Regions from separate parts of the Homo sapiens genome. Here all the other regions are linked to region 3. The links come from fine-mapping of genetic effects on gene expression. A gene starts in region 3. Each other region holds a variant in brackets. All regions are shown on one strand. Distances are between the middles of the regions. Region 1 has its middle 5.2 kb from the start of MIR4648. Region 2 overlaps IQCE (IQ motif containing E). Region 3 holds the start of BRAT1 (BRCA1 associated ATM activator 1).

Region 1 (2,841 bases), 23 kb before region 3:
TCCTGGAAGAGGTGCCTCTGAGCTGAAGCAGGAAGGCTTTGTCAAGATGGAGTAGGGAGAGAAGGGGCCTTCCAGGTCTCAGCACAGCCTGGGCAAAGGTGCAGAGGTGGGATCCACTGGGAGGACTGGAAGCCTGGGAAGGAGGGCAGGCAATGCAGTTGGGTCTCTTGATCCCCCCTCCCCAATCACAGACAACTAGGGCTCTCCACAGGCTCAGAGGGGCCAGGGCCAGGCTGCTATGTGACTTCAGCCATTCTTGCCGGGTGGGCCTGGGGTCAGAGGGAAAGCAGGGACCAGGGCCAGATCCATCTTCGAGTCTGTCAGAACAATGGGCAAGTCTTGTTCCCTGCTGGGTCCATGTGCCCACACAGCCTCAGCCTTCTTAGATATTCTGCAGGGTGACCCCCTGCTTCTGAGCCCAGAATTGGACACACAGGAAGGCCCTTGGGGCCAGGCGTGGTGGCTCACAGCCGGGCTGTGCCCTCTGCCTGGAGCCGCAGCCTGGATGCCTCCCACCCCACATTTAGGCTTCAGGCCCCACAGCTGCCTCTTCCCAGAACCCTCCCGGCACGCACTTCGGCGACTCTTACAAGTACCTGTTCAGCGTCAGCCTTCGCCCAGGAGTGCAGGCTGGGGACGAGGGCAGTGGCCACCTCTGCCGGTCCTGTCAGCACCTAGTGCAATGTCCAGCCCACCGTGGGCACTCAACGCAGGCGGCTGTGCTGCCGCAGGTCACAGCACCAATCAGACACCCCCATCCCCACACACACCCTGCACCGGCCCACGCGGCCATCACACTCGGAGCACACGCGCTCCGATGTGGCTGCACTGTTGGCACACGCACAGGCGCGCACGTGGGCGCATACACGCCGGGGCGCCCTGACCTCCCCGCACGCCCTCCCGCAGCCGCCCCGGCCTCTGTCCCCACGCGTGTCACACACGGCTGGGTGTGCTCGCTCACGCCGTCCCGCGACGTTGCTCCAGCCGGTGCCCGGAGCTCGATCGGGAGAGCTGCTGTTGGCCGCCTCTGCCTGCCAGCGTTTGCCAAGCGGTTTCCATGGTGACACATCTTGGCTCCGACAGGAACCAAGGAGTGTGGGGAAGAGGGTCCCCACGGAGGGGGCGAGGCGAGGCAGGAGGTCTCTGCGTCTTCAGGCTCCCGGCAGGCATGGGGGGCTCCACGAGTGCAGACACCCCCCAATCCCAAGCCAGGCTTGCACCCCGAGAAGGAGGCTCTGGGCTGGTCCCTCTGGGCTGCCTGGCACAGGGACTGACTTAGGTCAGTCAGTCATTCAACAAACTTTCTGGAAGAGCCACTCTGTGCTCACAGCCGGGTCTACGATGCTGCCCAAGACGTGGTCTCGCAAGAGGCTCGGAGTCGAATCCTGAGGCTAAACTGACGTCCCGCCACCCTACTGAAGGCCCCATCTAGCAGGTTGGTCCGTGGCTGCGTAAGCACCAAGGCCCACC[A/G]AGCACTTTCTCAAAGGGGGGCTCCCCTCTGTGGTAGATCAGTTACAAACGTGTCCCCGATGCCCCACTCCTCCCTGAATCACCACGCCCTTTGCTGTGTGACTTTGCCCCAACTCCTGTCTAGAGGTGGCGTCTACTTCCCCATCCTTCAATCTGAGCCTGTCTTATGACTTGCTGTGGCCAATAAAAGGTGACAGCAATGACATTCCCAGCTCTGAGCTTAAGCCTCCAGGGACATGCGTGCCTCTGCCTGCTCTCCCCGACTCCTGCTATAGCACGAGAACGGGCTGGGCTGCTTTGCTGGAAGGCAAGAGGGCGATGGAGCCTGGGTCACCCTAGCTGAGGCCATCCTGGACTAGCTAGCTCCCAGCTGCCCACAGATGTGTGAGTGAGCCCAGCTAGGACTTGCCAGGCCTAGCAATGAGCAGCAGTACCACCAGGCCCTTTAATACTAAGGACATGTGAAGTCATGTGTTTGGAGCTATTTGTTACTCAGCACTAGCTACCTGATACCCCTCTCTCTAGGGCCCTGGCCAGCAGCTGCCCAACCTCAGTTAGCACAGGCCAGAGGCTCTAAAAGTTCCCAGGGGTGCTAAGAACCAGGCCATGGTGACAGCTGGATTCCGCTGGCTAACAGTGCCAGAGGGTGCCGGGGACAGAGCTTGTGGGAGGGGGTTCCCATGACAAGTCCATGGCAGGAGCTACTGAAGCAGAAGCACGAGTCTCCACTGCCTTTCTTTGCCTCGGTTTTTCCCCCTGTGAAATGGGCCCATCACCCTGTCCTGTCTCTTGGGGACCCCTGGTAAGGTAGCGTGTGTGGCAGCTGGAAACAGACCTACTACGTGCCAGCCCCGGGTTGCAACCTAGGGAGAGAGGCCCATTGCTGCCTTCTAGGTTCCCACAACTGAGAAGGCAGCGTCACTAATCCCAGCTTACAGACTGGAAACAGTGGGGAGAGGATGAGTGGCTTGCCCGAGGCCCAGGACACACAGGAGCAGGTGGGCATGGCCACAAGCCCCGGCTGGGTCTGAGCTGGTGGTTATCTTCATGTTTTTCTCCCTGTGGTCACCTTTTTGGAAATTTTTTTTTTTTTTTTTTTTTTTTTTTTACATTTGACTATTTTCTTGTTTATTGGTATTTCTTTGGGAGATTTTTTTTTTTTTTTTTTTTTTGAGATGGAGTTTCGTTCTTTTTTTTTTTATTTTTTTTTTTTTTATTGATCATTCTTGGGTGTTTCTCGCAGAGGGGGATTTGGCAGGGTCACAGGACAATAGTGGAGGGAAGGTCAGCAGATAAACAAGTGAACAAAGGTCTCTGGTTTTCCTAGGCAGAGGTCCCTGCGGCCTTCCGCAGTGTTTGTGTCCCTGGGTA
Region 2 (2,500 bases), 24 kb after region 3:
GTCATTGCACGTGCAGAAGAGCGACGTGGACCTGATGAGAACGAAGCTCCGGCGCCTGGAGGAGGAAAACAGCAGGAAGGACCGGCAGATAGAGCAGCTCCTGGATCCCAGCCGCGTAAGCTCCTGGCGCTTCACGGACGGGGCAAGGGGAGGGTCCTCGGGGCAGCATCTGCCAGCCAGCCCTGCTGGGGGCTACACCGAAGGCCGTCTTCATGTCTCAATCTGCTTACCACAGGGCACGGATTTTGTTCGGACTCTGGCAGAGAAAAGGCCCGATGCCAGTTGGGTGAGTATGGTGTGTGCAGGACAGAGCCTTTCCCCAGACGCTAGTTACTGGGGACAGCCACAGAGGGACGCCTTTCCCTGCAGCACCCACGCGTGAAGAGCAGCAGGCAGGGGGGAGGCTGCGGACCCCCAAACCCTTCTCCACTGACACCTGGGGACACCACGGGGAGGGGGGCCAGCAGGCTCACCACAGAGGCCAAGCAAGACACTGTAGGAAAAACCCATCACAACGGGCGACTTCCCCCTCACACCTGAGAAAATACATTAAGCTTAACAAGCGCTCCCAGCGCTTTGGGAGGCCGAGGCAGGCAGATCACTTGAGGTCAGGAGTTCGAGACCAGCCTTGCCAACGTTGTGAAACCCTGTCTCTACTAAAAATACAAAAAAGCCGGGTATGGCAGCATGCTCCTGTAGTCCCGGCTACTCAGGAGGCTGAGGCACAAGAATTGCTTGAACCTGTATGGCAGAGGTTGCGGTGAGTTGAGATCGCGCCACTGCACTCCAGCCTGGGTGACCAAAAAAAAAAAAAAAAGGTGCTACAGATGTAAATCAGGGAACCAGGGCAGCAATAACGTCCTTCAGATAGATCCAGACCCCCCTCAGATACTATGTGACAATATGTAAGAAGTTGAATGAAATGGAAGCAGGGAAGATGTTGCGGTTCGGTGGTAATGCTGTGGCGATCAGCTGTAGGTGGCACAGTACACCTCCTAGCAGTCAAGGAAGTACTTCTCTAAAGTGGGACATGGTGGAAGAAAACCGAAAGGGATACGATTTTGAGATTATTGAACGCAAAGAATAAAATAACATTAATGATGTGATTAATGGATTTGATAATGTAAAATTAAAAGTTACATAATAAAAAGCCATGGGACTAAGGTAGCAACCAGATCACTGTAATGGGGGAGGAGAAGGATATTATGGATCAATACAACAAAGTTTTCTGTTTAGAAAATACAAAAAAAACTATAAATCTCTAAAGAAAAAAGGCCGTGTCCTCTGAACTATGTCACAGATATAGAATGTAGAAAGATTGTATAATCATTACATGTTTAAAGTAGATGGTGAAAGCCTAGCTCGGCACCTAGGACGGCACAAAGTAAATCC[T/C]TAACAAATGCCTGTAAGTAGTGGGTACTTTTGTAAAGAAAAGGCTCCATGTTTTTGTTGTTCTGGTGGTGTGTGTGTGTGTGTGTGTGTGTGTGTGTGTGTGTGTCTGTGGGTATTTTTTTTTTTCTTGAGACAGGGACTCACTCTGTTGCCCAGGCTGGCGTGCAGTGGCAGGATCATGGCTCACTGCAGCATTCAGCTCACGTGATCCCTGGCTTAGGGGATACTCCCACCTCAACCTCCTGAGTACCCGGGACTACAGGCACGTGCCACCACAGGCAGCTAATTTTTTTTTAGTTTTGGTAAGATGGGGTCTTGCGAAGTTTCCCAGGCTCATGTGATCCTTCTGCCTTGGCCTCCTAAAGTGTTGGGATTACAGGCCTCAGCCACTGCACCTGGCTGAGGTTAGTTTAAAGTAGGAATTCCAGATCCTAGGGTATATGCAGTATTCATTATCATATGGCAAATTGTCCATCAGTGTGGCTGTGCCCTGTGGCCTGCCGTGTCTACGTGTCATCACCTGCCTTCAAGAAACATTTGCAGATGTGCCTGAGGAGGCCTGGCCAAGGATTTCGATTGGAGGATTGACCAGAATCACAAAAATGGGCTACAACTTAAGTATGTGTCAGTAGGCTACAGTGATAGATTTTAGAGCATAGCCAAAAAAAAAAAAAAAGATTTTAAAAGTGTCTATCTGCCGGGCACAGTTCCTCATGCCTGTAATCCCAGCACTTTGGGAGGCTGAGGCAGGTGGATCACCTGAAGTCAGGAGTTCAAGACCAGCCTGGCCAACATGGTGAAGCCCCATCTGTACTAAAAATACAAAAAAATTAGCCAGGTATGATGGCGCGTGCCTGTAATCCCAGCTACTCAGGAGGCTGAGGCAGAAGGATCACTTGAACTTGGGAGGTGGAGGTTGCAGTGAGCTGAGATCGTGCCACTGCACTCCAGCCTGGGCTACAAGAGTGAAACTCTGTCTCAAAAAAAAAAAAGTGTCTATCAATAGAGGCTGGATAGAGATACTGTGGGAAATAGTGTGGATTCACAGGCGCCAGCAGGGACAGAGCACCAGGAGGATTTGTTGAATGTTAGAATAAAAAAAAAGAAA
Region 3 (2,841 bases):
GAGTCCCCATCTGGCCCCTGCTCCCTGTCCCAGCCTCTGCGTCTGGTCTCTGGATAGGCAGTAAACAGCAGCACCACCTCCTTACCTCCTTCAGTGACCGTTTTAAACCAGTCCAGGAGCTTCTCCAAACAGGTGTCATCTGCCACCGGCTGCCTGGGATCTACCAGAACAGCACAGAGAGCCGGGAGCAGCTGGGCGCATTCTGGGTCCATGGTGAGGCCGCAGGCCCTGCAAAGGCAATGTGAGAGCCAAACCTCAATGCCCACTCCAGACCCAGCTCGCTCTAGTCACAGCAGCCCACCATGCCTGCTCAGGCCTGGGAAGGGGCCCCAGAACTTTCATCTCAGACCAGGAGAACCATGATCCCCAGACCAGAGGTCTGTACTGCAGGGATGGATGCAAAGCTTTGGTCTAGGTGGGGCCCTGAGCGCTGGTGGCGGGGCTGAAAGGGGCAGATGAGGGTCTAGCTGAAACCACAAGGCCTCCGGAACTCAAAGTCTGTCACCCTTGGTCTTTGGTGCAGTCGGGGCAACAGCGTGGTGCTGGCCCAGGCTGCAGGTGGGCCAGAGTCAGGGGCATCTTTGAGTTCCGGGGTCAGCCATGTGTGCAAGGGGATGTCTACCCATGCCCCAGGGCCAGCCTGGGCTGGAAAGTTTCTGTCCCTCCCAGCGTCAAGTGGTGGCTGCATTTGACGTCCTGAAGCCAGCAGGGGGGTGCGGAGGGGAAGGGGCGCCTGTCCGTGTGTCTGTCCCTCTCAGGGTCAGTGGTGGCTGCATTTGCTGTTCTGCAGCCAGTAGGAGGGTGAGGAGGGGAAGGGGCACCTGTCCGTGTGTCTGTCCCTCCCAGGATTAGTGGTGGCTGCATCTGAAGCCGGCGGGGGGGAGAGGGGGGCGGCGGGGTGCGGAAAGGAAGGGGCGCCTGTCTCTCCCAGGACCAGGTGTGCATCCGTGCGTCCAGCCTCGGGGGTGGGCGGGGTGGTCAGCGGCTCTGTCTAACCGGGGCACCGTCTGCCAATGCCCGGGAAGGCTGCGTCCCGGGAAGAGGAACCCTCCCCACACTTTGAAGTCAGTTTTGGCCGCGAGCGCCAGGCCCGAGAGTCCAGAAGGGGCGCCAGAGCAGGCGGCCACAGTCGGGCTGGGAAGCGAGCCCAGGTCGCGCACGCCCCGGGCTGGGCTGCTCCCTGGCCCGCCCGCCCCCCTCGGCCGGGTCTTGGCCTCCCCGCGCCCCACTACCACGACCTCGACCCCCGAAGGCCCACGCGCCTCACCGCTCGGTTGCGTCCTCCGCCGCAACCACCCCTCGCCCAAGGCTCCGCCTCCGGACAGTGCCACCTGCCAGGCCCGGAGGAGGCGGAGGACGGAGACGGCTGGCGTGGGGAACTGAGACTGCACCCCTGGAGGCCGCTCTGGAAGCCTCGAGGGCCCAGACTTGAAGGAAGGAGTTCAAGCTGAGAGGGGCTGGGGACAGGCAGGCGCCAAGCCGGTCGCTCCGACAGATCACCCCCGCCAGGCGCCTAGTGGTTCATGCCGAGCATCCGGTGGGTGGGCGGGGCGTCTCGAGGGCGGGGATCTCTGAGGAAGGCGCGGGGTTGTGTCCGGAGGGGCGGGGCTTCGCCTGCAGGGCGCCCAGTGTCTGCACCGGCGGGAGCGAGAAAACTATGTGCCGGAGAGAAGCGTCCTGATCCGTGCACCAAAGCCCTTGGTCATTTAGCTTCAGGTTCTCAAATTAAGTCCTCCGCGGCCGCGCTGTGGCTCATGCCTGTAATTCCAGCCCTTTAGGAGGCGCAGTTGGGAGGATTGCTTGAAGCCAGGAGTTGAGACCAGCCTAGGCAACAAAGCGAGACCCCATCTCTTAAAATTTAAAAAAAAAAAAAAAAAAAAAAAAAAAGGCCAGGCGTGGTGGCTCACGCCTGTAATCCCAGCGCTCTGGGAGGCCCAGGCGGGCGGATCACGAGGTCAGGAGTTCGAGACCAGCCTGGCCAACATGGCGAAATCCCGTCTCGTCTCTAATTTTTGTATCTCTAAGATATCAAAATTAGCCGGACGTGGAGGCGCGCGCCTGTAATCCCAAGTACTCGGGAGACTGAGGCAGGAGAATCTCTTGAACCTGGGAGGCGGAAGTTGCAGTGAGCCAAGATGGTGCCACTGCACTCCAGCCTGGGCTACAGGGCGAGACTCCGTCTCAAAAAAAAAAAAAGAAAATCAGCCAGACCTGGTAGCATGCGCCTGTGGTCCCAGCTACTCCAGAGGCTGAGGCGGGAGGATCGCTTGAGCCCAGAAGTTCAAGGCTGCAGTGAGCTATGATCCTGCCCCGGCACTCCAGCCTGGGCAACAGAGCAAGACCCTGTGTTTTAAGAAAGCAAACAGGCAGAAAAACTAGGTCCAAAAAATTGAGTTCAAAACACTAACTGTGTGTTCGAGAGTCTCAAAGCCAGTGGATAGACAAGGCTCATGTTCCCAAAGCATTGTTTTATAGCAAGATTGTTGGGAGCCAACACCAGATTTAGGAAACAAAGCAGAATTCCTATGGATATTAAAATTTAAAAATTTAAAAGCACTGACTTTGCTGGGTCACCTTTATTTTATTTATTTATTTATGGAGACGGAGTGTCACTCTTTTTGCCCAGACTGGAGTGCAATGGCTCAATCTTGACTCACTGCAACCTCCACCTCCTGGGTTCAAGCGATTCTCCTGCCTCAGCCTCCCGAGTAGCTGGGATTACAGGTGCGGGCCACCACGCCCAGCTAATTTTGTATTTTTAGTAGAGACGGGGTTTCACCATGTTGGCCAGGCTGGTCTCGAACTCCTGACTTTAGGTGATCCGCCCACCTAGGCCTCCCA

What was found.
Region 1: its variant is fine-mapped to the expression of BRAT1 in whole blood (INTERVAL, PIP above 0.99).
Region 2: its variant is fine-mapped to the expression of BRAT1 in whole blood (INTERVAL, PIP above 0.99).

Annotation. Positions count from the first base shown.
Region 1 is chr7:2,530,827-2,533,667 of GRCh38, forward strand. No RefSeq gene overlaps it. Among named protein-coding and RNA genes, the nearest start is that of MIR4648, 5.2 kb to the left of the region's middle. RefSeq lists enhancers at 1-72, 467-1,439, 2,625-2,841. The variant A/G (reference allele first, on the strand shown) is at 1,471.
Region 2 is chr7:2,578,241-2,580,740 of GRCh38, forward strand. IQCE (IQ motif containing E) reads left to right here. Exons shown (of 22, transcript NM_152558.5): 7 at 2-115; 8 at 236-286. Among named protein-coding and RNA genes, the nearest start is that of IQCE, 21 kb to the left of the region's middle. The variant T/C (reference allele first, on the strand shown) is at 1,393.
Region 3 is chr7:2,554,220-2,557,060 of GRCh38, forward strand. BRAT1 (BRCA1 associated ATM activator 1) reads right to left here and starts at 1,305. Exons shown (of 14, transcript NM_152743.4): 1 at 1,268-1,305; 2 at 86-228. The coding sequence starts at 212. RefSeq lists a silencer at 1,060-1,299 and an enhancer at 1,212-1,889.